Homo sapiens: one gene and its partners. The protein of the gene in region 4 purifies or fractionates together with the protein of the main gene of each other region. This does not show direct contact. Each region holds a gene or a part of one and is shown on either strand. Other genes may lie near its edges. The genes, in order: CAPN15, ST7, EXOG, CDH5, TBL2, VANGL2 and PTPRU.

Region 1 (3,425 bases), about 66 Mb from region 4:
GCCGAGTCCTTCTCTGGAGAACAAGCCTGTCCCTCCTGCTGACCTGGGGTGGGGCGGCTTGTTCGTGGCCCAAATGGGACCTGGAGCTTCAGCTCCAAGGTGCCAACCTCAGAATTCAGGTCCACCCAGGTCAGCAGATTCCAGCGCCCTGAAGAGCCGGCCCTGGAGGGCTTCCTATTATAGGCCTCAGGGATGGGCCCCCGGGGGCCGGGCTGCAAGAGGACGGTGACGGAGCAGCTGGCACCTGCTGGGGTCACCGGCCTGTGGTTGCGGTAGGCGCTGAGCCACGGAGGTGTGGGCCGTGGTAGGCTCAGGGCCCCGTCCTCCCGCCACCTGCAGGTACTTCGACTCCGTGGACATCTGTAAGGTGCACTCGGACTGGCAGGAGGCGCGGGTGCAGGGCTGCTTTCCCAGCTCGGCCAGCGCGCCCGTGGGGGTAACAGCGCTCACGGTGCTGGAGCGGGCCTCGCTGGAGTTCGCGCTCTTCCAGGAGGGCAGCAGGTGGGTGCTGCGGGGCCCCATCGGGCTGGGCTGGGCTAGGCTGGCGGCCGTGACCACGCGTGACCCTGGCCCGTGGTGTCTGGCGCAGGCGCTCGGACGCCGTGGACAGCCACCTGCTGGACCTGTGCATCCTGGTGTTCCGGGCCACGTTCGGCAGCGGCGGCCACCTCAGCCTGGGCCGCCTCCTGGCCCACAGTAAGCGCGCGGTCAAGAAGTTCGTCAGCTGCGACGTCATGCTGGAGCCTGGCGAGTACGCTGTGGTGTGCTGCGCCTTCAACCACTGGGGGCCGCCCCTGCCGGGCACCCCTGCCCCCCAGGGTACGTGGCCCCTACCCCAGGCTCATGCCCCAGGCCCACGGGGAGGGCTGCGGTTCACACGCCCGTCCTTGTAGCCTCCAGCCCCTCGGCAGGGGTCCCGAGAGCCTCCCCAGAGCCGCCGGGCCACGTGCTGGCTGTGTACAGCTCGAGGCTGGTCATGGTGGAGCCCGTGGAAGCCCAGCCGACCACGCTGGCCGACGCCATCATCCTGCTCACCGAGAGCCGCGGAGAGCGGCACGAGGTGGGTGGGGGTCCCGGGGGAGGGTGGCGTGGGGCAGGGGGAGTATGCCCCAGCACCTCCCCTGCCCCACAACTGCCATTCCTGTGCCCAGGGCCGTGAGGGCATGACCTGCTACTACCTGACACACGGTTGGGCGGGGCTCATCGTGGTGGTGGAGAACCGACACCCCAAGGCCTACCTGCACGTGCAGTGTGACTGCACCGACAGCTTCAACGTGGTGTCCACACGCGGCAGCCTGCGTACCCAGGATAGCGTGCCACCCCTGCACAGGTGCGCCCCCGCCCCTGCCCCCCCACCCCTGCACAGGTGCCCCCTCCCCTACCCCGCTGCACCCACACCCAACTCGTGCCCCCCCACCCCTGCACAGGTGCCCCCTCCCCTACCCCGCTGCACCCACACCCAACCCATGCCCCCCCCACCCCTGCAGAGGTGTGCTCATACCCCTGCCCCCACCCCTGTACGGGTGTTTGTCACCCCACTCCTGCTCCTGCCCCTGTACAGGTGGGCACAGCCCTGCCCCCATCCCCACCCTGCCCTCCACAGGTCCTCACCGGTCCCCTCCCCCAGGCAGGTCCTGGTGATCTTGTCCCAGCTAGAGGGCAACGCCGGCTTCTCTATCACCCACCGCCTGGCACATCGCAAGGCAGCCCAGGCCTTCCTCAGTGACTGGACAGCCTCCAAGGGGACCCACAGCCCCCCACTCACGCCAGAGGTCGCCGGTCTGCATGGGCCCCGACCGCTGTGACCACCATGCCTGGGGCAGGGGCTGTGCACAGACGGACCCCCCACCCCCACACGCACTTTATGAGGGAGACCCCGACAGAGGACGCTTGAGCCAGAATCTCAGGACCCCGCCCAGGGAGCTGCCAGCCCAGGGCTCAGCTTCCCATGGGCCCCCCGCCCCCCTCCTTCCCCTCCCTGAACCCCACAGTCCGCCTGGCCAGGCCTCCTGGCCGCCACGCAGAATACCTCGAACCAGGCGGGCTGTGAACCAGCCCCGCTCACCTGCCAGCCCCAACACCCGACGGGGGCCGAGGCCAGGCTGCCCCTCCCTGTGGGCTCAGGGTCTCCTGCGGGCTAGGCAGCCAGGAGCTCTGTCCGCAAAACCAAATCTGGGTGTCAGAGGCCAAGACCCTGGGGTGGGATCAGGGACCACCCCTCACGGGGCATAAGGTCAGTTTTCCCCCAGAGCCCGGGTCCCTGTCCCCCACAGGGCAGGCGGGGTCCCTGGAGCCCTGGTGTGGAGCGGCGAGTCCCGGGGCGGTGCCTGTCTCAGAAGAAGGGGCCCTTGGCCAGCCCCCCAGCGACACTATGCAAATCCTGGAGTGCCCGCCAGGATCGAAGCCATGACTGGGTGCAGGCGGGCGCCAGGCCCGCTGTGGGTGGGCACCAGTTCTCAGCACCGCTCACTGCTGCCGGGCACACTGGGACCAGCAGGCTCCTCAGCCAACCCTGTCCCTCGGCCCGGCCCTGCCAGAGAGGGACCCCAGCACATCGTGGGCACGGGCAGGGCTCAGCCGCTCCCACCTCCCCACAGAAGCCCAGGAGTGTGTGGACGTCTGAGCCCAGCTTTCTGCGTGCCCTCCTGGCCCCTCACTCCCGGCAGCGGGCCGGCCTCGCCCCCACTCCCCCTCCTACCCCGGCAGGGGCTTCCGGGGCCTTTTCACCTGGAGAAACATTCCCACTCCCCTTTGGCCTCCCTGTACTCTGAGCTGTGAATATTTTTAACCCTGTAAATACGGCCAGCTCTTGTGACACAGAGACTATTTTATCAATTGTCAGTCCCGTTCCTTTACCATAGGATTCTCCACAGTGGCTTCCGACTCAGGCTCCAATGGACCAAATAAAAGCGTTTTGTTTTGTAATCACGCCTCCTCCTCCTGCTGTTGCCCCGCGCAGGGCCCTGTGGAAGGGCGGGGAGGTTGCAGGTCTGAGGGGTAGGCCCTGCCCAGGCATCCCGGGCAGGCGGACGGGTGGGGGCCCCTGGAGATGGCCGTGGTGGGGTGACTCACAAGCTTGTAAGGGGCAGCCGGCCCTGCCAAATGGACGCAGCCAGGAAGGACGGAGTGACTGGGCGGGGGCAGGGGTCAGACCCTGCGGCCGCAGCCCCAGGGCCGGGAAGGACTGGGCAGACGGGACAGCAGCGCATGCAGCTTCTTCCAGCGAGGCATCCGCACGGGGGGCTCTGTCTGAACCCATCAGTCACCCGGCAGGAGCAGATGGAGTGAGGGGGCGCGTGGGGAGAAAAGTTTCCTGTCCCCTCCCAGCCTCGTCCCAGGGTGGCCTCTGCCCCCACACGGGTGCTGCTGAGCAAAGCGCCCGCTCGGAGGCTCTGCTGTCTCCCTGGACGGAGTTGGGGGCTGGG
Region 2 (3,500 bases), on a different chromosome or scaffold from region 4:
CTAAGTATTAAGAGTCCAAACTGTAAAAAACATGTATACTCATTAAGTCCATGTATTATCTTGGTGCTACACTTTGCACTCAATGAAATTCATCGTAAGACACAGAATCCCAGAGCTAGAAGGAAACTTAATGAATGTAAAGCCATTATTTTACATATACAAAAACTCAAGCTCAGAGAAAAATGCATCATTCGGATTGCTTTATTAATGGCTGAGAAAAATATCTCCAAAAATAATTAAGGGCAACTAAGATGTCTGGGATACATTCTAAACTCAAAGCTGACATTAATCAAAAAATTGTCCTTTTATATATTCATAAACTGAACCACCATGCTTTAGATGCATATGGCCCATCATAGAATATATAAGATCTTGTAACAGCCTCTGACCACAATCTAAAGCTGCAAACTTAGATGGGGCACATACTCAGTAATGCATTTGATCAATTGTATTGTTCCAATCCCAGCTCACTAAATACACCGTAACTTGGATATTCATTCATCCAGTGAATGATAAGGACCTACTTTGTACAAGGAATTAACACTGGAAGATGAAGAACTAGAATCTAGAAGAAGTAATAAAACATACATATACAAAAAAAGATGCATATATACACAAACACTGACCCACATATATCACACACATATACCATAATTCATATAAGATAAAGTAACTGCAGGCATGCCATAAACAGCAAAATAACTAGAATTAGAACTGAAGCTTTAAGATGTGACTGAATTGTTGTAATTCCTTGTAAAACTTGAACGGATAAAGAGCTGTTTCTTTTGATGAGCAAAGAAAGTGTTTTGAGATAGAATCTACTCCTGGTGAAGATGCTGTGAACATTGCTGAAATGACAACAAAGGATTTAGAATATTACATAAACTTCATTGATAAAGCCGTGGCAGGGTGATAAAATTGACTCCAATTCTGAAAGTCCTACTGTGGGTAAAATGCTATCAGACAGCATCACATGATACAGAGAAATCTTTCTCTGGAAAGGAAAACCAATCCATGTGGCAAACTTTACGGTTGTCTTATTTGAAGAAATTGCCACAGCTACCCCAACCTTTAACAACCAGCACCCTGATCAGTCAGCAGCCATAAACATCAAGGCAAGACTCTCTACCAGCAAAAAGATTATGACTTCCTGAGGCTCAGATAGCATTTTTTTTTTTAGCAATAAAGGATTTTTAAATTAAGGTATATACATTGGTCTTTTAGATATAATGCTACTGCACTCTTAATATAATACAATATAGTGTGACTATAACTTTTATATGCACTGGGAAACCAAAAATTTCATGGGACTCACTTTATTGCAGTGGCCGGGAACCAAACTTGCAATATCTCCAAGGTAAGCCTGTCTTTTCTGCAGCTGAAAGGATCAGAAGGCAGCATGCCAGCTGGTCCTTGATAGATGGGTGGGATTTACAGATAGGGAAGAACATTTTAGACAACAGGCACAACAGGGGCAAAAGACCTATGTAAACTGCAACCAGACCCTCTAGAAGGGAAATCCAATTTTATGTAAATTTTAAGTAAATTAAAATCTAAATGTTAAGTAAATTTAGAGCAAAAATTCTCAACATGAAAAAATGCCAAAACTGAGCTGCAGCCTAAGTTCTATATCACGTCAACAATATAAGAGTTTTACATCTGTATTCATGAGCTTAATTAACACAAAAAAAAGTCTTCTAAATAACTTGACCAGGCACGGTGGCTCACACCTGGAATCCCAGCACTTTGGGAGGTGGAGGCAGTAGGACTGCTTGAGCCCAGGAGTTCAAGAACACAGGGGACCCTGTCTCTACAAAAAAAAAAAAAAAAAAAAAAAATTAGCCACGCACTGTGGTGTGCACCTGTAGTCTCAGCTACTAAGACTGAGGTGGCAGGCTGAGACAGGAGGATTGCTTGAGCCTGCAGGTTGAGGCTGCAGTGAGCTGTGACTGCACCACTGCACTCCAGCCTGGGTGACAGAGTGAAACCTTGTCTCAAACATAAGTAAATAAATAACTTTAAGCCTAGATCAGGCTATTACATTTGTTTTCCAAAAGGAATGAAAACGGATTTCAAAGATCTTTGAAAACTTGCTTTTCAGCAAATAGAAAAAGAATTGGAAAATCACTTATGCTGCTTTTTGCAAAAACAGCAAAGTTGCCCGTTTTAGGAAAAGGTGTTTAAATTCAGCAGCAAAAAACTTTATAACATAGGGTAGATGAGAAAGTGCCATCAACACCACTGTATAAGTTATGGTACTATTTTTTAAGACTCACCTATTTTAATAATATCCTGCATGACTGTGCCAATCTACAATTAATTTTCTGCCCTTTGGAAAAGTATTGCTTTATGATATTAATTCACTTGAAAACTGACAAGTAATATTATTTGGGGTCTTTTAAAAACCTTGTTAAAATTTCATTCTATTTTCAGTAAATCATAAAACTATTTTAACACTATTGTATCCAAATCAAGAGCAGAGCCTCAAAAATCAGTTACCAGCAGCTGGGCATGGTGGCACACACCTGTAGTACTCGCTACTAGGGAGGCTGAGGTGGGAGGATCCCTTAAGCCCAGGAGTTCAAGCCCAACCTAGGTAACATACTAAGACTCTCTTAAAAAACAAACAAAAAAAAAAACTATTATCAAAGCTAGCCACTATGTACTATTCCTATTATGTTCGTTTTCTCCCCTTTCTTTTTTAAAATTCATTTTCATTACAAGATGTGATTGCCAATGTTAAGGTTTCTCTGTATGGTCTAAGAGAATACTGTGGAATTCTTTGAACTATATCCCTACCCTAAATGGCACTGGCTCAATGCAACGAAGGTCACACGAGCCAAGCTGGTGGGAGTAGGGAAGTAGTATACCTCAAAAACAGCATTCAAAGCATTTTTACTTGGAAAACTACACGATGTAAGAGCTAAAAACGGTATGGTTGTTCATCAAAGTCCTTTTCTTTTATTATTTTAAATTAAATTCCACGATTAGCTCTTCTCTGAATCTGACCTGCACTTTCACAACTTTGTCCCTTTGTTTGGGAGGTCCACCTCTGAGTCCTCAATCATGGAATTCTCCTCATCCTCTTAGGCTCAATTCAAGAGAAGCTCTCACAGCCTTGCCCAGCCCCATCTTGCATATGGGAAGTTGTATTCTTGTAGTAAACTCCTTATTTACCCTGGGTTTTACAAACTCATTCATCTTTCTTATCATAGCACCTGTTATAGTACATTAGGAGGCATCTAAATTAAAAAAAAATCGAGTTAAGCTCATTTACCATAAAATATGATCAAATGAGGATTAAAATTGTCACAGATGGTCAAGATATTGAGAAGATACCAAGCAGATATCCAAGAATGACTCCAGAACACTTTTAGCAGATTCCATCCCCCTACAGGTACAGAGCTGGGCCTATGGAAGCCCTGGCTCCTGGCTGCCTGATTGTGATGGTGTCTTTGGCTTCCTTGAGGAGGAAGGGAGGCCTGCGCCATCTGCAACTC
Region 3 (3,500 bases), on a different chromosome or scaffold from region 4:
AGAAGCTTTTCTTTACACCCTATGTATTTACATATTTATTGAGTATGTATTCTTATTTAATTCAATAGGTTTATAATCCATTTTATTTTGATATTCAATAGCACCAGATACAGTAAGTGGGAGCTCCTTCAAGCTGATTCACATGTCCTTCTGACATATCCCCACCATTTGTCTGAGCACTTCCTTGGCTTTCTGATATATGATGTTCCATTTTGTACTCTCCCTGTACCACCCCTTAAATCAGTCATTTCTCTAAGCGCTGAGTCTTTTCAGGAGATGCTTTTTAGAAACAAATATCTGGGTCTCAAGATGTGTTCATTGCTAATGACATACCAATTCTTCTGGGCCTTTTCAGCAGAAACAACTAGAAGATATATTTTTATCAGTTCTATTTTTAAAAATTATATCCAACTTAAGAAAAACAATACATTTTCCACTACGGCATTTGGGCAACACATATTTTACAGAAATAGCCACACAAAAATCTATGTAGTGAAATGCTTGTAATTATTGGTTAATTTTTCGTTTTAAACATTGTACAAATTTTTGTTCTACTACACAGTAGGCTAGTGATATAAATTTTTCAATTTTATAAAAACAAAGCACAAATAAAACTGTAATTTAACCATTTAAGATATACAAGTCAAAGCTAGAAGAGCCTCTTTTCTGACATAAAATAAACAGGATTTAACAAAGACCAAGAATAATTAATATTTGAAAAATAATACAGGGGGCTTTAAGCCTTTTTTTCTCCTAAGACTATAAAATATACTAAAATTAAATTAGCAAGTTAATCAGAGGAGAGAAATTAATATGGGAGGAGAGATATTAAATGAATTAATTTTAAAATACTAATTCCTTTGACTTCCTTCACTCCCATATCTACTGGAATTTTCCAAGGATGTACAAATCCTTGAAAACAACTACTCTATCATTTCCACTTAACAAAAAGAAGTAGTTGGGTCATAATTTTGTGTGGAAAAAGAGAAAGTGGGCTATTCATATGGACCTATACAAATCCTTGGATGCTTGGACATTACTGCACATCTGATCTAGACAGGCTGATAATAAGCAAGTCAAATGGACAGAATATACTCTAAAAGTTTTGGTTTTTTTTTGGGGGGGGGGTGGTTCCTCAATCTGTTCCTCAGGTTATTAAATTTTATCACAGACTTAAGTAATCATTTACCTAACCAGCATTTATTAAATATCTACTTTATTTCCAGAGCTGAGCTAGGTGTTCCCTCCCCTCCTCTTTGGCCTTATTAGCAAGTCCTTCAGTGCTTCTTTTTACTCACTCTACCACCTCTTCTGCTTCACTCCACCTGTTCCCTGCCCTCTGTAAGCCTCACAGTATAGTATAACATTTCAGCCACCCTCTTGGAAGAATCCTCAGGATATTTCTGCATGATAAGATTAAATGTTAAACTTTTTCTAAGAACACCTGCTCTTCAGGTATACCACTTTGTAAATTGCCAATATGAAAGGCTAGCTAAGAATTTCCCAGCAACATTAGATGTCTGAAGCTCTCACACCACTAATTACACTCTCCTATCTTTAATCTCTCTTTCAGTCTATAAAAGTGCTCACATATCTTGCATATTAAAAAAAAGAAGCTTCTAGAAGAAAAGCTTTTCTTCCCATTTATTCAACTCACTGTAACACTGTAATCTGGTTGTTTTTATTTTATTTTTATTTTTATTTTTTTCGAGGTGGAGTCTTGCTCTGTCGCCCAGGCTGGAGTGCAGTGGTGCGATCTCGGCTCAGTGCAACCTCCGCCTCCTGGGTTCAAGCGATTCTTCTGCCTCAGACTCCCAAGTAGCTGGGACTACAGGCACACGCCACCACACCCAGATAATTTTTGTATTTTTAGCAGAGACGGGGTTTCACCATATTGGCCAGGCTGGTCTCGAACTCCTGACCTCGTGATCGCCTGCCTCGGCCTCCCAAAGTGCTGGGATTACAGGCATGAGCCACTGAGCCTGGTCTGCAATCTAGTTGTTATCCTGGAACTTCTCCCTCTTCCTCACTCAAACAAGTTATTTATTCATGGTTACTCTTTCCTGTGTTCCTCTATTATTCCTCACTCCAACTGCTTGTATGTCCTAACTCATCTCCTTGCCTCTAATCTCTTCTTCAAATGCTCCCTTTTCCCACCTATCTCTTTACACGCTGCTGCCAAAATACTCTTTATAAAACCCAAATATCATATTTCTCCCACGCTTAAAACAAATCTATGACTTCTTAGTGCCTAAAAATTAAAACCCAAGTCTTCATCATAGAATAGAAAGTCGCATATTATCTCACCCGTCCACCTGTTGTTATGGAACTCTTCATACCCCTTGAGCCACCCACACTGTTTTGTACCATAAGCTCCAATTTTTATGAATGATATATAAATCTCAAAACCCTGATGTTGACCACAAATGTCCTGTGCTCATCCTGCTCCATCCTCTGGAATCCTCAGGGTCCACTCCTGACTCTTATCTGTCAAGGTATAGCTCAATATCACTTCCTCTTTTAAGCGTTCCTGACTCATATGAGTAGAGCCCATCAGTCCTTTCACAAGACCACACTGTGTGTGTTTACCTCTATTACAGCATGTCACACTTTAATGTAATTAATTGTTAACATCTGTTTTCCACTCTAAACCGTGAGTTCCTTGAAGTCAATAGTTGCTTTTATCCATCACTATATTCCCTATGCCTATCATTCCTAATAGGTGTTCAATAAATATTGTTGAATAAGTGAAATTAAAAAGTAGAATGCAAAATTTTTTTTGAATGATAAAAATAAAAATAAAAAGCAGAATGGAAAGTGAGATTATAATCTCATACAGATAACATAAACCTGACTATTAAACATCCTTACCTGGTAACTAACTATTTTCTTTCCATCGCCTCTAGTCTGAGGTAAGGTCAAAGGCCCAGATACCACCCAAACATCTTCAAACCTTTCTGTCAGCTCTCGACAGTACATTTCTATTCTGAAAAACAAATAAAAAAATGTATGATATTCTCACATATATACATGTAAGACAGCAGCAAATCATATCAATTCCTATGAAAGATACCAAGAAAAACTGCATTTGAGAAATTAAACAAGAACATGGCACAAAACATTATAAGCATATAAACAATTATTTTCCCAGTTTGCTTACTGCACAGAAAAAACTTAAAAATCACATACACTAACAAAACTATCTACATTTTTCTTTATGTGCGCTCAGAGTACATTCTGGAATTCAAATTTCATGAACTTAAAACTTTTTTTATGCCATAGTTCCCAACCAGCTTTCAAGAATTATGTATCATTCCAACAAGATGATATACTTTATTTAACCATTCCTCTTGCAGGACAATTGGGCTTATGTTAACATTTCTTATATAATGCAACGTTGTATCAATTCCTTAGGATAAATTTCAAGGACCAGAATTACTGAATGAATTTATTTTAAAGACTCGTCATCATATGTAAAACTAACATTTTTAATAGGGTTA
Region 4 (3,500 bases):
AGAACGACCGAGAGATGTGACTCTTACCTGCCGAAAGGAAACAGGCTAAAATGAAAAAAGGGCTATGACCACATCTCCAGAGGCTGCAGCCAAGAGAAATTCAGTTTTCAGCTGTGGCTGCAGTAGATCTGACTGGCCCGGTTTCCTCTGCATCATGATGGGAAGGAACATCTGTCCAACAAGACCCTTCCCTGCAGCCCCCATTTTGGTTAGCCAATTTTTTTTTTTTTTTTTTTGAGACGAAGTCTTGCTCTGTCACCTGTTGCCCAGGCTGGAGTGCAGTGGCAGGATCTCAACTCACTGCAACCCCCGCCTCCCAGGTTCAAGCGATTCTCGTGCCTCAGCCTCCCGAGTAGCTGGGACTATAGGCATGCGCCACCATGCCAGGCTAATTTTTGTATTTTTTAGTAGAGACAGGATTTCACCATGTTTCCCAGGCTGGTCTCGAACTCCTGACCTCAAGTGATCCACCCGCCACAGTTTCCCAAAGTTAGTGGCCAAATTTCTAACCTAAAGGGCAAAAGACACAAATAAATGTGGCTTTTCAGATGGGAAGGTCCCACAGGTGTCTCTGAGATTGAGTATAGAAGGAGCCTAGGATTTAGAAAAAGATCGATCTGATGACAACCATTCATGAGTTGTTTGTCTCTGAGCCTCAGTTTCCTAATCTGTGAAATGGGAATGATAAGTCTTACATCCTGGGGATAGTGTGAAAATTAAATGCGCTGGCATGGATGAAGACCAAGCACCGAGAATAGTTCATTATTATTACATGTGAATGTCACCACAGAGATAGAGAGAGTGGCATGACGCAAAAAGCACTAATTTGGGGGAAAGACAGCCTAAGTTCAAATCCTGGCTCCACTGCCTCCGGCTATGTGAACTGAGATGACTTACGCTACCTCTCTGAGCCCCCATTTCTTTACCTGCAAAATGGGAACGCAGACAACTACCTAGAAGGGTTGTTGCAAGGTTTAAATAAAATAACGTGTGCCTCGGGGGAGTGCTCAGGGATGTCAGCCCTCCTCCACCGTCCCAGGCGAGAAAGAGCTGTCTCGGGAGGGTGCTCAAGGCTCTGGCATGGGGGTGCAAATGGGATTATGTGATCCCAAGCTCCCAAATGCCCCCAACCCAAGGTCCTGCCCCTCACCAACAGCTGACTGATGAGAGCTGAGCACCCAGACCTCCCTCTGCCCTGGCAAATGACACACAGCTGCTGTGAGGTGACTCTGCGAGAGCCAGTCTCAGCCCTGTCAGAGGGAAGGAGCTTGAGGGTGGCCCATGTGCTCCAAGGGACTTCTCTCCAGAGCTAGCAGCAGGGCCCCTGCTGGACACACAACAGAATCCAAGGGGCTTTTCTGCACCTTCAGAGAACGCTTTGTTATGTGGGGCCAGACAAAGCCCACTGAGGAGTTAATGTCCCCCCAGGAGCCACGTGGTCCGAGCCTGTGACTGGTGGACTCTGCTTTGCTGAAGTCTGGTGTAGGTACAGCCGTGCATCTTTTTTTTTTTTTTTTTCAAATCAAGGAAGGAACCTCATTTTATTCTGAATGTGTTAGTTTTGACCGTCTTCACCCTGAAATTTTCTCTTTGTTTAATTTTATTTATTTATTTTTTATTAGTATACTTTAAGTTCTAGGGTACATGTGCACAACGTGCAGGTTTGTTACATATGTACACATGTGCCATGTTGGTGTGCTGCACCCATTAACTCGTCATTTACATTAGGTGTATCTCCTAATGCTATCCCTCCCCTCTCCCCCCACCCCACGACAGGCCCCGGTGTGTGATGTGCATCTTAATGACTGGGACACATTCTGAAAAACGAGTTCAGGTGATTTCGCTGTTGTGCAAACATCAGAGAGTGTGCTTACACAAAGAAATCTGGATCGTATAGCCTGCCGCACACCTAGGCTGTACGGTACAGTCTATTGCTCTTAGGCTCCATACCTGTGCAGCATGGTACTGTACTGAATGCTGTAGCCAATTTTAACACGACAGCAAGTATTGATGTATCTAAACATATCTAAATACAGACAAGATACAATAAAATTCCCATGTAAAAGATAAAAAAGGAGCCTGTAATCCCAGCACTTTGGGAGGCCAATGCAGGAGGATCACTTGAGGCAGGAGTTCAAGACCAGCTTGGGCGATATAGTCAAACCCCTCCACCCCAACTATCTCTTCAAAAAAATTTAAAAATTAGCCAGATGTGCTGGCACATACCTCCTTGTGGGGCTGAGGTGGGAGGATTGCTTGAGCCCAGGAGTTTGAGGCTGCAGTGAGCCGCATTCACACCACACTCCAGCCTGGGCGACAGAGGGAGACTCAATCTCAAAAAAATAAAAAAGTAAAAAATAAAAATAAAAATAAAAAAATAAAAAATGGTACACCTCTCTATGGTACATACCATGAGTGGAGCTTCCAGGACTAGTAATTGGTCTGGGTGAGTCAGGGAGTGAGTGGTGAGTGGCCTAGGACGTCACTGTATCCTACTGTAGACTTAATAAACACCGTACACTTAGCTTCACTAAATTTACTTAAAAATATTTTTCTTTCGTCAATAAGAAATTAGTTTACTATTAGGGTAGTGCAAAAGTAATTGCTGTTGTTGCCGTCTAAAAAAAAAAAAAGCCACCGGCTACGGTGGCTCACGCCTGCAATCCCAGCACTTTGGGAGGCTGACGCGGCGGATCGCCTGAGGTCAGGAGTTTGAGACCAACCTGGCCAACAAGGTGAAACCCCGTCTCTACTAAAAATACAAAAAAAAATTGGCCGGGCGTGGTGTCACGCGCCTGTAATCCCAGCTACTTGGGAGGCTGAGCCAGGAGAATGACTTGAACCTGGGAGGCGGAGGTTGCAGTGAGCTGAGATCACACCGCTGCACTCCAGAACAAAACTCTGTCTCAAAGGAAAAAATAATAAATAAATAAATAAATAAATAAATAAAACACAATTACTTTTGCACCAACCTAATATAACATTTTTTATAAAGTTGGTCTACACTACCATCACCCCAAACACACGAGTAATGGCTTGTGCTGTGACGTCACAATGGCTGCAATGTTACTAGGGCAGAGGAATTTTTAGCTCCATTAAAACCTTAGGGGACCACATTCATATGTGCAGTCCATTGTTGACCAAACAGTCATTTTGCAGCACATGACTCTATTTATCCATCTGACCGCTGGCTGCGGTCAGCCCTAGGGATCACTAACCCATCCCAATAGGCCCCAGGAAAGAGAAAACCACATTCCCGCTCACTGTATTAGAGATGGGGTTCCCAGCAGGAAACAGAGCGAACCCTGGGAGGCCAATTGAAGAGATTTTATGAAGGGACTGCTTCAGAGAGGTGGGCTCCTTTAAGGAAACCAACCACTGCCTGCACAGAGGTGGGCTCGGATGTTGAGGTACCCAGAGACCAGCAACAGCACTTCTGCCTGGAATTCCCTTCCCTCTCCTGTCAGTCCTGTGGCTGGCACTCAGATGTGGGCTGAAAC
Region 5 (3,936 bases), on a different chromosome or scaffold from region 4:
AAACACAAAAAGTAGCAGGGCATGGTGGCACGCGCCTGTAATCCCAGCTACTCTGGAGGCTGAGGCAGGAGAATCTCTTGCACCCGGGAGACGGAGGTTGCAGTGAGCCGAGACGCGTCACTGCACTCCAACCTGGGCAACCGTCTCAAAAGTAAATACATAAATAAATAAATAAAATAAGTTTTCTATTAAAAATTCTCCCTTTTAACTTTCGACTTGCCAGGCCAGCCCCAAATCCAGGCCCTCGTCACCTCCCTCTCGGATCCTTGAAGCCACTGCCGGTTTTCTGATTTTGGTCTTTTCACACAAAGGTCCATCCAGGGAATCCTCAGACACAGCTTTTGCCCCACCTCTCCCTGTAATGAGCAGCTTGTTGGATGGAGCCAGCGCTCAACGTCCCCCAGACCTTTCCGCCCCTCTAGCCATTTCCCACATCCCAGCTTCTCAGGTCTTTGCGGAGGCTGTTCCACTCCACGCGCCTGGCCTACTCTTCCTTAAAAGCCCATCTGAACTTTCGCTGATGCTGAGTTTCCTATCCGTTAAATGGTAATAATAATCCCCGCCCCGCTTCCTTGAAAGGATCCAGTGTGGTGATGGCTGGAATAATGCCTTTAATAAACAATTATCAGTGAGTTCTTCAGGAGGAGGCGTGAGCAGTGATCGCAAATCCCGCCTTCCTCCGCCCTCCGCAGCCCTGCAATCTCAACCGCCAGGCGACCCGCCCCTCGAAACGCACCAAGGGTCGAGCCCTGCCCCTCGAGATGTTCTACTTCCAGGCCCCGCCCCTCGAGACACTCTACCTCCGGGTTCTGCCCCTCGAGACGCTCTAACAACCCAGCCCCGCCCCTCGAGACGCGCTAACTCCAGACTCTGCCTCTCGAGGCGCTCTAATAACTAGGCTCGGCGGGTGGAGATGCTCTAACTCCAGGCCCCGCCCCTCGAGCGCCACAACAGCCGGGCCCCACCCCTTGAGGTGCTTTAACGGCCAGGCCCCGCCCTGAAGGCGTTGTAACAACCAGGCTCCGCCCCCAGGCGCTCTAACGGCCAGGCCCAGCCGCTTGAGGCTCCCCAACGGCCAGGCCGCGCCCCCGCGTGCGTGCGCGGCCCGGCAGAGCCGTGCGGGCGCCCGCGTACTCACTAGCTGAGGTGGCAGTGGTTCCACCAACATGGAGCTCTCGCAGATGTCGGAGCTCATGGGGCTGTCGGTGTTGCTTGGGCTGCTGGCCCTGATGGCGACGGCGGCGGTAGCGCGGGGGTGGCTGCGCGCGGGGGAGGAGAGGAGCGGCCGGCCCGCCTGTAAGTGGGGCCGGGTCGGGTGGGGGCGGCCCGCGGTGTCCCGGCTCCCGGCCTCCTCGTGGTCCGACCTGCGGTTTGGGCCCGCGGCTGGTGGGGCCCGGCGACTCCATGGGCCTCAGTTTCTCCTCTGGTAACGTGAGCTTCGCTTCCAGAGACGGGGACCCGCCTTGCCGGGTTAGGCGCACCTCCTGGGGCGGGACTGGCTCCAACCTGGGCCCCTTACTGCGGCTTTCTCTGTGGCCGAGGCCAGGCCGTCCCCGGGGTGGCCAGGAGAGCACCGTAAACTCTTCAGCCTGCTCCGTGGCCGCGATCTCGGAAAAAGCACCAATTCTGTGATGTGCAGCAGCATTTACTGGGCATCTATGACCCTGTGATAGGCTTTGGGGTCTTTTTCTGTAAGGAGTCCAGTAAAGGAGAAGTACATCTGTATTATGAACACCTAAATATGTAAGTGAAAAACACGGTGAAATAAGTTTCACTGAGGCCAGGCGAAGTGGCTCACGCCTGTATTCCCAGCACTTTGGGAGGCCGAGGCAGGGAGATCGCTTGAGCCCAGGAGTTTGGGACCAGCCTGAGCAACATAGCAAGACCCCATCTCTACGCAAAATTAGCTGGGTGTGGTTGTGCACGCCCCTGTAGTCCCAGCTCCATGGGAGGCCGAGGCAGGAGGGTGTCGTGAGTCCAGGAATTCAAGGCTGCAGTGAGTTGTGATAGATCGCGCCACTGTACTTCAGCCTGGGTGACGGCAAGAGCCTGTCTCTGAAAAGTTTCATAGAAGAGGTTAGTACTAGAAATGGGAAACACCAGAGAGTCAGTGGGCAGCCCTGCTCTTTTTATTTATTTTTCAGACAGAGTTTCGCTCTTCTTGCCCAGGCTGGAGTGCAGTGGCACAATCTTGGCTCGTTGCAACTTCCGCCTGCCAGGTTCAAGCGATTCTTCTGCCTCTGCCTCCCGAGTAGCTGGGACTACAGGCACACACCACCACGCCTGGCTAATTTTTGTATATTTAGTAGACGGGGTTTCGCCACGTTGGTCAGGCTGGTCTCGAACGCCTGATCTCAGGTGATCCACTCGTCCTGGCCTCCAAAAGTGCTGAGATTACAGGCGTGAACCACTGTGCCCGGCCAGCCCTGCATTTTTTTTTTTTTTTTTTTTGCAGGGGGACGGAGTTTTGCTCTGTCGCCCAATCTGGAGTCTAGTGGCGGGATCTCGGCTCACTGCAAGCTCCGCCTCTGGGTTCACGCCATTCTCCTGCCTCAGCCTCCTGAGTAGCTGGGACTACAGGCGTCCGACACCACACCCGGCTAATTTTTTGTATTTTTTGAGTAGAGACGGGGTTTCACTGTGTTAGCCAGGATGGTCTCAATCTCCTAACCTCTTGTGATCCACCTGCCTCGGCCTCCCAAAGTGCTGGGATTACAGGCGTGAGCCACCCTGCCTGGCCGAGTCCTGTTCTTTTATGGGGGAGGTGGTTGTTAGGGAAATCATTACTGAGAATAGGGGGCACATGAGGTAGTGTGGGGTCTCAAAGGATGGTTCTAGAAGAAGAGTTTGCCAGAAGGCCAAGGAAAAAAGACATTCCTGCCAATGGCAATACCCGAGAAGGCAAGGAGTCCCCAAACAGCATTTGGTATGACTTAAGTGTGAGGAGGGGGGCTTGTTAGACATGCCTGGAGAGAAGGAAGCAGAGGACAGATTGTGGCTGTGTTTGTTTGCAGGGCCCAGGAGCTTTTTTCCTGTTGGAATTGGGGAGCATCTGCAGTCATTTACCACATGCCAGCTTTGTGACTCAATTAAGTATCTTTTACAAAAGTGACTGGCTCCACTCCCCCGCACAGGACTCAACAGATGTTGACTTCTCATCCCCGAGTTCTTTCAGGTACTGGAGTGCAGTGGTGCGATCTTGGCTTACTGCAACCTCTACCTCCTGGGTTCAAGTGATTCTCCTGCCTCAGCCTCCTGAGTAGCTGGGATTACAGGCGCCTGCCACCACGCCCGGCTAATTTTTGTATTTTTAGTAGAGACGGGGTTTCACCATGTTGGCCAGACTGGTGGAACTCCTGGGCATCAAGATGATCCAGCTGCCGGGCCGGGCATGGTGACTCACGCCTGTAATCCCAGCACTTTGGGAGGCCGAAGCGGGCAGGTCACAAGGTCAGGAGATCGAGACTGAGGCAACAGAGCGAGACTCTGTATCAAACAAAAAAAAAAAATGATCCAGCAGCTGCCTCAGCCTCCCAAAGCGCTGGGATTACAGGCATGAGCCACCGCACCCGGCCTCCATAGAGCCTTTAATGCTTGTGTTCGGTACTTTTGCTTGTCACTTTGTAGATATCTCATCCAATTCAATCTCCCTTATTTTTATTTATTTATTTATTTATTTATTTTGAGACAGAATCTCACTCTGTCGCCTAGGCTGGAATACAGTGGCACGATCACTGCATTTGAACTCCTGGGCTCAAGCAATTTTCCCTCCTCAGCCTCCGAATAGCTGGGACCACAGGCGCACACCACCATGCCCAGCTAATTAAAGTTTTCTGTAGAGATGGGGTGTCACTATGTTACCCAGGCTGGTCTCGAACTCCTGAGCTCAAGCAATCCTCCCATCTCAGCCTACCAAAATGCTGGGATCACAGGCAT
Region 6 (3,500 bases), on a different chromosome or scaffold from region 4:
ATCTGGTAATTCCGGAGCCCTCATAGAGATGAGAAATAAGTCTCAGCCATCCCCAAAATGGTCCTGAGGACTCCCTTCTCCTCATCTACCTAAAGACTTCACCCCACACAGATGGGGCAGGTGGAATAGGAATGAGAGAGAAGATTATAAAAAGGAGGTGGTGAGGAGAGAGAAATGAGGTGGACAGTGAGGAAAGTAGTGAGAGAATAAGGGAAAATGAAGGTGGGAAAGAAGAGGAGCTGGGGAAGGAGGAAGGATGCTGGCAGCAGGGCAGGCCTACCTTGGGCGTCATGTCATGCGTGATGCAGAATTCAAGGTGCTGCAGGATGCTCTCCATGGTGTGGTAGGGCTGCTGCTTGGTGGTCCGAAGGTACTTCTGCATGGCACGGGCCATGGATGCAAAGATGGCTTGGGCTGCCTCCCGGGGGTCCATCACCTCCCTGGGGTTTTTCTGCTCCTCTTCCTGCAGCCGCTTAATGTGAGTGAAGGCCTCCTCCACCGCCACTACAAGCCTAGGGGACAGGAGGGGACTGGGCCAGATGCCCACCTCTCTTTCCCCCACCCCACCCCTCTCCCCTAGCTCCAACACTCCAGCAGCCTGAATGAGGTCAGGCCTTTGTGCTCACCCAAAGTAATACAAAGCCAGAGGCAATAGTGCCTTTCTGCCACTGGGAACAGTAAACAGCCACAGAGTTCAGTGGGCCCAGCCCAGGGACTCAGAGGGCAAACCTAGTGTCAAACCCAGAGAGACAACTAGGAACTATGCTATAGGAAAGACAAAGCATTCCACCAAACTTTAAGGAAAACCTTCTTAAATAAGACCCCCAAATCATACTTCATTGGCTCAACAATTAATAGATATGATTACATCAAAATGACAGATTTCTGTTCAACCATGACAGCATGGGCAACATTAACTGACATCTGATGGAGCTGGGGAAAATATACACATCTAAAACCAACAAGGGATTCAGATCTAGAACATGCAAAGAATTTGCTACAATTTCTATCAAGAAGAAAAAGACAGGAAACCTAGAGAAAAAAGGGCAAAGGAGGTGAACAGAAAATTCACAAGAGGACTGAAAGGCTAAAAGATATACGAAGTAGTTACTGGCTAGCAATTAGAGAGATGCAAATGAAAATGTTAGTAAAATATTACTTTTCCATCAAAATGGAAAAAAGAAAGAAGGTAACTATAAACCAAATATTGGATAGGATGTTGGGAGTATTCCATGAACTACTATGCAGCAAAAAGATGCAACAAACTAGATGTACAGACAACTTGGATGAATCTCAAAAACACAGTGTTAAGGAGGAAGCAGGAAAAAAAAATCCATTTACATTAAAAGCATATAGATGGCCGGGTGTGGTGGCTCATGCCTATAATCCCAGCACTTTGGGAGGGTGAGACAGGTGGATCACCTGAGGTCAGGAGTTCAAGACCAGCCTGGCCAACATGGCAAAACCCCATCTTTACTAAAAATACAAAAATTAGCTGGGCATGCTGGTGTGCATCTGTAATCCCAGCTACTGGGGAGGCTGAGGCAGGAAAATTACTTGAACCCAGGAGGCGGAGGTTGCAGTGAGCTGAGATCATGCCACTGCACTCCAGCCTGGGGGACAGAGCAAGACTCCATCTCAATAAAAAAAAAAAAAAAAGCATACATACAGACACACACACCAACACCAACAAAGATCACTACACTAACACTAACTTTGCACAAGGATACATATAGCTTTTAAGGAAGTCAAACACACTCAACAGGATGCCTAAAATGTGGCGCTGGAGTGAAAGTGGGAACTGGAGGAAAAGAAGAAACAGAATAAAGAACCATGAAAAACTCTATAATGACAATATGTTAGAAGCTGAAAAGAGCAATTAATGCAATTATCTGCACTTCAAGTCCAAAAACCAAAATAAAAGCCCCCTGGCCTAAGAGCAGGACCAGCCTGAAGTGACAGGACAAAGAAAGAAAGTGAGGCCTTCTATGCAGAACCCAGGAACCTGAGTCATTTCAGATGGGACTCTGGGTATATAGGTGTGGATCTGTGTATGTCTATCATTTCTTCCTTTATTCTCTTGCTTCCCCTACATTTCTCAGTAAATTCCCTTTGAAAAGATCCTTTTATCTCAGGTAAACAAAGGAAAAAGTTTGCTCCTGGTTAAAAGCAAGGTAATGGGGAAAGGAAAGAGTCCTCTATGTGCCAAAAATGGTGGTGGCAGTACAGGAGATTGGATGACCCTGGTCAGGGCAGAAGATAAAGGGGTAGGGACATCACTGGTTTCCTTCCCAAGTCTCAGGCCATTTCCAAGACAATTAGAGACAGGTTGGAATGCCACAGAAATGGAGTTGGTGATCTTTGTTCTACTACAGGGGATGCCAGCCTCAAATAGGAACAAGGTAAGGGCTACCTCTTGCCCTTGAAGCCTGGAGTTCATGTGGGAGATGGGGCGGAGGCCAGGTGCGTGGTCAAGTCCTGAGGCACTCTGCTCCTCCCTCAGGGAACTCCCGACAGACCAAGATGGAACCCGGCAGAGTAGGCACCAAGTAAGATTCTTCAGGGTTGACTAAATTCACTTAATAATATGAATAGGGAAAGGGAGAAGCTAGGATGGCATTTAAGAATTTACCAAAATATAGGCAATAAAACGTCATTTTTTGAAGGCAACAAAAGCACCATCTGGTGAGTCCTCTCAAGATCTACTGGCAGGCAGGCTAGTCTAGCCTGAGTCCATGCTGTTGCAGGTAAAGCTCACATCCCTTTATTGGGTCCCTACCCCACTGTGGCAGGCAGAATTCAAAGATACCCTCCACTTCTACCAGACTCCCATCCCCTCATTAGACAACAATCTTGGTACATTTTGCAGATGTAATTAATGTGCCAAGTCAGTGGCCTTAAAAGAAGACTGTCCTTTAGGGCCTGATCTCATCACATGAGCTCTTTAAAATCAGCATTATCTCCAGCTGGTGGCAGAGGTCAGAGACCTGTTTCTGCTGGAAAAAAAAGTGCACTACCATCATGTAAACTGCCTATGGGGCTATGTGACAAGGCACTGAATTCTCCCCATAATAATGAGCTTGAAAGAGAAAGCATAGGCTCAGATGAGAGTCCTCTTGATTTCAGCCTGTGAGGCCTGAGCACAGCCTCCAGCCAGCCTGCACCTGACCCATGGAACTGGGAGATAATAAATGTGTGCTGTTTCACAGCTGCTAAGTTTATGGTAATCTGTTAGGGCAGCAACGGAAAACAAGCACACACCCCCAACTCATGTCATCATTGCCCTATATTTCCAGCAGTTACAGAAGTTCCTTGGTCTTCCTCTCCCCATTCACCCAACAAGCACCTCCTCTCCTCTTCTCCCCCAGGGACCCACCTGGCCCTCCTCTTGCGCACCCTTCGCTCATGCTCAGCCTCCTCATAGTAGTACTCATTGTGACTGTTGTCCCGCCTCCGAGCTGCCGCTGCAATCACAGCCCGAGACTGGCCAGTGGAGTTGT
Region 7 (3,500 bases), on a different chromosome or scaffold from region 4:
GAAAGGAGGGAGATTCACACTCAGAGATGGAGAGAGGAGAAGGAAGAGCGACAGGGACAAAGGGAGTAAATGAAAGAGAAGGGGAGGGATGTAGTGAGCCGAGGAGGAGGCAGAGGGAGCAGGAGGAGGAGGAAAGAACAAAGTGTCAGATTGGAAGAGGGAGAAAGATGCACACAGCTGCTCGCAGGGAGAGGAGAGAGAAGTAGCATGAGTGGGCCAAGAGGGAGTGTGTTGGGGGTTGAGAAGTGCCCCTTCCTGGGTGGGGATGGGGACTTGAGTTTAGTTTACTACTGCCCTGCTGGGACTGATCCAGGAGCCGCCTCCATAGGGCTTCTAGCTTACAGAGATGAATGAGATCGCCTCCAGCAGAGTCCCTGGGGAGCCCTCCTGGAGCGGGGATCTGAGTGAGCTTGTGTTGGCTGGCAGCCAAGCCCGGGAGGAGGCAGCGCTGGGTGGTTTCGGGTGCCCTTTGGGAAGCCCAAATCCCCCCGCCAGGTCCTGAGCCAGCCTAGTCCACTTCTACTCCACCAGTACCCAGCCTGGGTCTCTGGGGAAGGGACAGGCTGCCTTTCTCCAGGTTGGAAGTCAAGGGGATTTGTATTCCAGGAATTTAGACTCAGGGATGGGGGCTGGAAGGGAAGTTGGAATCCTTTCATTCAATCTCTGTTCTACATATTCATTCAGCTTGCGTCCTGAGGCCTCACAGCCTGGTGGGAGACACACAGGCACTTTAGTAATGACCCAGGGGGCAGGAGAGAAGCCCAGGGTGGGAGGCAGAGGGAGGGCTTTGGAAGGGGTGGCCTTTGAGGGACTGTTGTGTGCCAAGCTCTTGACTCCAGGGATGAATGACCTAGTCCCTGTCTCCAGGGATAGCTCAGAACATGGGGAAAGCTGTGGTTAGGCTGGGCATGGGCATTGTGACCTGTAGATTGTAAGGAGCCATAATTTTTTTTTTCTTTTTGAGACCGAGTCTTGCTCTGTCACCCAGGCTGGAGTGCAGTGGCGTGATCTTGGCTCACTGCAACCTCTGCCTCCCAGGTTCAAGCAATTCTCCTGTTTCAGCCTCCCGAGTAGCTGGGACTACAGGCACATGCTACCACACCCTGCTAATTTTTGTTTTTTTAGTAGAGACAGGGTTTTACCATATTGGTCAGGCTGGTCTCGAACTGCTGACCTCAGGTGATTCACCCACCTCAGCCTCTCAAAGTGTTGGGATTATAGGCGTGAGCCACCGCGCCCAGCCTTTAAATGGTTTTGACAAAGTCAGGTTTGTGTGTTTTTTACTGCTCCAGGTCTCCTGTGGGAAACAGATGCTAGGAAGTGAAGGGACTCACCCAGGGAGGTGGAGCTGGGGCCAGAACTCAGAATCCCTGACTCCTGGTGGGTCCCGTTGCCTGGAGTCCTCCTCAGTGCTCCCCTTGCCCTGGCCCTGTCCCTCCCCTGAGGTCTCCTCATCTCCTGCCTCTTCCTCCTCTCTTTCCAGGCTCCTACTTGATGGTCAACACTTCCCAGCATGCCCCAGGCCAGCGAGCCCATGTCATCTTCCAGAGCCTGAGCGAGAATGATACCCACTGTGTGCAGTTCAGCTACTTCCTGTACAGCCGGGACGGGCACAGCCCGGGCACCCTGGGCGTCTACGTGCGCGTTAATGGGGGCCCCCTGGGCAGTGCTGTGTGGAATATGACTGGATCCCACGGCCGTCAGTGGCACCAGGCTGAGCTGGCTGTCAGCACTTTCTGGCCCAATGAATATCAGGTGGGCTGGGTTCAGTCAGCGGTCAGCCTGTGCCTGGAGGTGGGGCAGATGGATGTCAAATTGAGGTTGGAGTAGATGAGTGGCTGAAGTTAGAATGTGTCTGCATTCAGTATCAGAGGCAACCTGTGGTCAAGGCCAGGGGTCAGTCTGGGGCCAGTCTGGGTTCAGCATCTGAGGTCATTGTTCCTAGGAATAGCCTCTGGCCCAGGTCAAGGGTGAGTTGGAACAGTGCTGACCTGGAAACTCTGTCTGGCTGCTTGAGGGTAACTGTCCAGGATTTGGGTGGAAACTGGCCTCCACCTTGTTCACTATGGGCGCTGGGACCCCACCCCCAACTAGCTGGCTTGGGAGGGAGGGTCAGTGTGAGCTGGGCTGACCTCTGCTAGTTGAGGCAGAGGAGGCTGAGGCCGAGCTGAAAGTGGGCACCTCCCCAGGCAAGGCTGGAGGAATATCAGTATGATAGGGGCCCTCCCGCCTCCCCCAGGTGCTGTTTGAGGCCCTCATCTCCCCAGACCGCAGGGGCTACATGGGCCTAGATGACATCCTGCTTCTCAGCTACCCCTGCGGTGAGTCCCAGCCCACTGGGGGCGCAGGGGTAAGGGGTGTGGGCGGCCGCGGCTCCTGCCTGCAGGGGGTGCAGGCCCAGCTCACGATGCAGCTCTAACCCCGCAGCAAAGGCCCCACACTTCTCCCGCCTGGGCGACGTGGAGGTCAACGCGGGCCAGAACGCGTCGTTCCAGTGCATGGCCGCGGGCAGAGCGGCCGAGGCCGAACGCTTCCTCTTGCAAGTGAGCGGGAGCGGTGATCTTGGCTGGGGGCGGGGTGGGAGGGGGTTGGTGGCTGCTTCTGGCCCTGACTCCCCCCAGATTGCTGAGTCCCTGCTTCATACTCCAGCACTGCGCACAGCGTCCCGGCCCTCCCCTAGCTCTGCTCTGCGCTTTCTTGGGTCCCCCATTCCCCCAGGTTAGAGCGCGGCTCCAGGAACCTATGTCCGCGCGGTGTAGTAGGGACGGCTAAATGGGGCCCGGGTCAGAGCGAGATCGGGACCCCTCGCTCCGAGGCGCCCCTGACCCCCTCACTCTCTTCCCTGCAGCGGCAGAGCGGGGCGCTGGTGCCGGCGGCGGGCGTGCGGCACATCAGCCACCGGCGCTTCCTGGCCACTTTCCCGCTGGCTGCCGTGAGCCGCGCCGAGCAGGACCTGTACCGCTGTGTGTCCCAGGCCCCGCGCGGCGCGGGCGTCTCTAACTTCGCGGAGCTCATCGTCAAGGGTCAGCTGGTGGACGCCGGGGAGCGCCGGGACCTCACCCTCGAGGGGCGGGGCCGGCGACGGGGGCGGGCTCTGCCCGGGGGCGTGGCCGTGGGGGGTGGGGCCGGCAGGGTGTCGCTGGGGCGCTATCTGAAGATGGGCCTGTGGAAATGGCAGTGGCCCAGCCGGGATGAGATCTGATCTAGGGGTCGGGGCTGGCTTCGAGGGGGACGGACAGGGTCAAGGTGAGAGCCTAAAGAGGGGTGGGGTTCTGGCTGTGTGACTTCTGTGTTGATCCTAGCTGGCCTGCGGTCCGCTCCAGGAGGCGAGGATGTGGGGGATTAGGAGGGGCCTGAGAGAGGGGTTGTGGGCTGATGGGCGAGGGCGGGGTCAGCCTTTGGAGCCAGGTGCCCCTTAGGGCCCGGGATTTAGTGGGGGTAGGAGAGCGGGTCTGGTTGAGGGCTTGGTAGCAGCGTGAGAGGCCCTAGGAGGACGGAGA

What was found.
Region 1: the proteins of CDH5 (region 4) and CAPN15 purify together in Homo sapiens (affinity purification with mass spectrometry; 2 studies listed by BioGRID and IntAct, with this or other methods). This does not show direct contact.
Region 2: the proteins of CDH5 (region 4) and ST7 purify together in Homo sapiens (affinity purification with mass spectrometry; 2 studies listed by BioGRID and IntAct, with this or other methods). This does not show direct contact.
Region 3: the proteins of CDH5 (region 4) and EXOG purify together in Homo sapiens (affinity purification with mass spectrometry; 2 studies listed by BioGRID and IntAct, with this or other methods). This does not show direct contact.
Region 5: the proteins of CDH5 (region 4) and TBL2 purify together in Homo sapiens (affinity purification with mass spectrometry; 2 studies listed by BioGRID and IntAct, with this or other methods). This does not show direct contact.
Region 6: the proteins of CDH5 (region 4) and VANGL2 purify together in Homo sapiens (affinity purification with mass spectrometry; 2 studies listed by BioGRID and IntAct, with this or other methods). This does not show direct contact.
Region 7: the proteins of CDH5 (region 4) and PTPRU purify together in Homo sapiens (affinity purification with mass spectrometry; 2 studies listed by BioGRID and IntAct, with this or other methods). This does not show direct contact.

Annotation. Positions count from the first base shown.
Region 1 is NC_000016.10:551,712-555,136, forward strand, and holds the end of CAPN15 (calpain-15), read left to right. Parts: intron 1-339; coding exon 340-501; intron 502-589; coding exon 590-819; intron 820-893; coding exon 894-1,060; intron 1,061-1,151; coding exon 1,152-1,330; intron 1,331-1,603; coding exon of another isoform or gene 1,604-1,627; coding exon 1,628-1,805; 3' UTR 1,806-2,925; downstream 2,926-3,425.
Region 2 is NC_000007.14:116,956,501-116,960,000, reverse strand, and holds part of ST7 (suppressor of tumorigenicity 7 protein), read right to left. Parts: exon of another isoform or gene 3,278-3,500; intron 849-3,277; exon of another isoform or gene 184-848; intron 1-183. UniProt on the Homo sapiens protein: May act as a tumor suppressor.
Region 3 is NC_000003.12:38,506,340-38,509,839, reverse strand, and holds part of EXOG (nuclease EXOG, mitochondrial isoform 1 precursor), read right to left. Parts: intron 2,987-3,500; coding exon 2,872-2,986; intron 1-2,871. UniProt on the Homo sapiens protein: Endo/exonuclease with nicking activity towards supercoiled DNA, a preference for single-stranded DNA and 5'-3' exonuclease activity.
Region 4 is NC_000016.10:66,373,191-66,376,690, forward strand, and holds part of CDH5 (cadherin-5 preproprotein), read left to right. Parts: exon of another isoform or gene 1-27; intron 28-2,410; exon of another isoform or gene 2,411-2,611; intron 2,612-3,500. UniProt on the Homo sapiens protein: Cadherins are calcium-dependent cell adhesion proteins. They preferentially interact with themselves in a homophilic manner in connecting cells; cadherins may thus contribute to the sorting of heterogeneous cell types.
Region 5 is NC_000007.14:73,575,780-73,579,715, reverse strand, and holds the start of TBL2 (transducin beta-like protein 2), read left to right. Parts: upstream 1-1,136; 5' UTR 1,137-1,166; coding exon 1,167-1,296; exon of another isoform or gene 1,297-1,404; coding exon of another isoform or gene 1,405-1,426; exon of another isoform or gene 1,427-1,743; intron 1,744-3,014; exon of another isoform or gene 3,015-3,144; coding exon of another isoform or gene 3,145-3,175; intron 3,176-3,936.
Region 6 is NC_000001.11:160,421,064-160,424,563, reverse strand, and holds part of VANGL2 (vang-like protein 2), read right to left. Parts: coding exon 3,377-3,500; intron 513-3,376; coding exon 281-512; intron 1-280. UniProt on the Homo sapiens protein: Involved in the control of early morphogenesis and patterning of both axial midline structures and the development of neural plate. Plays a role in the regulation of planar cell polarity, particularly in the orientation of stereociliary bundles in the cochlea.
Region 7 is NC_000001.11:29,257,022-29,260,521, forward strand, and holds part of PTPRU (receptor-type tyrosine-protein phosphatase U isoform 1 precursor), read left to right. Parts: intron 1-1,483; coding exon 1,484-1,755; intron 1,756-2,239; coding exon 2,240-2,321; intron 2,322-2,427; coding exon 2,428-2,543; intron 2,544-2,848; coding exon 2,849-3,023; intron 3,024-3,500.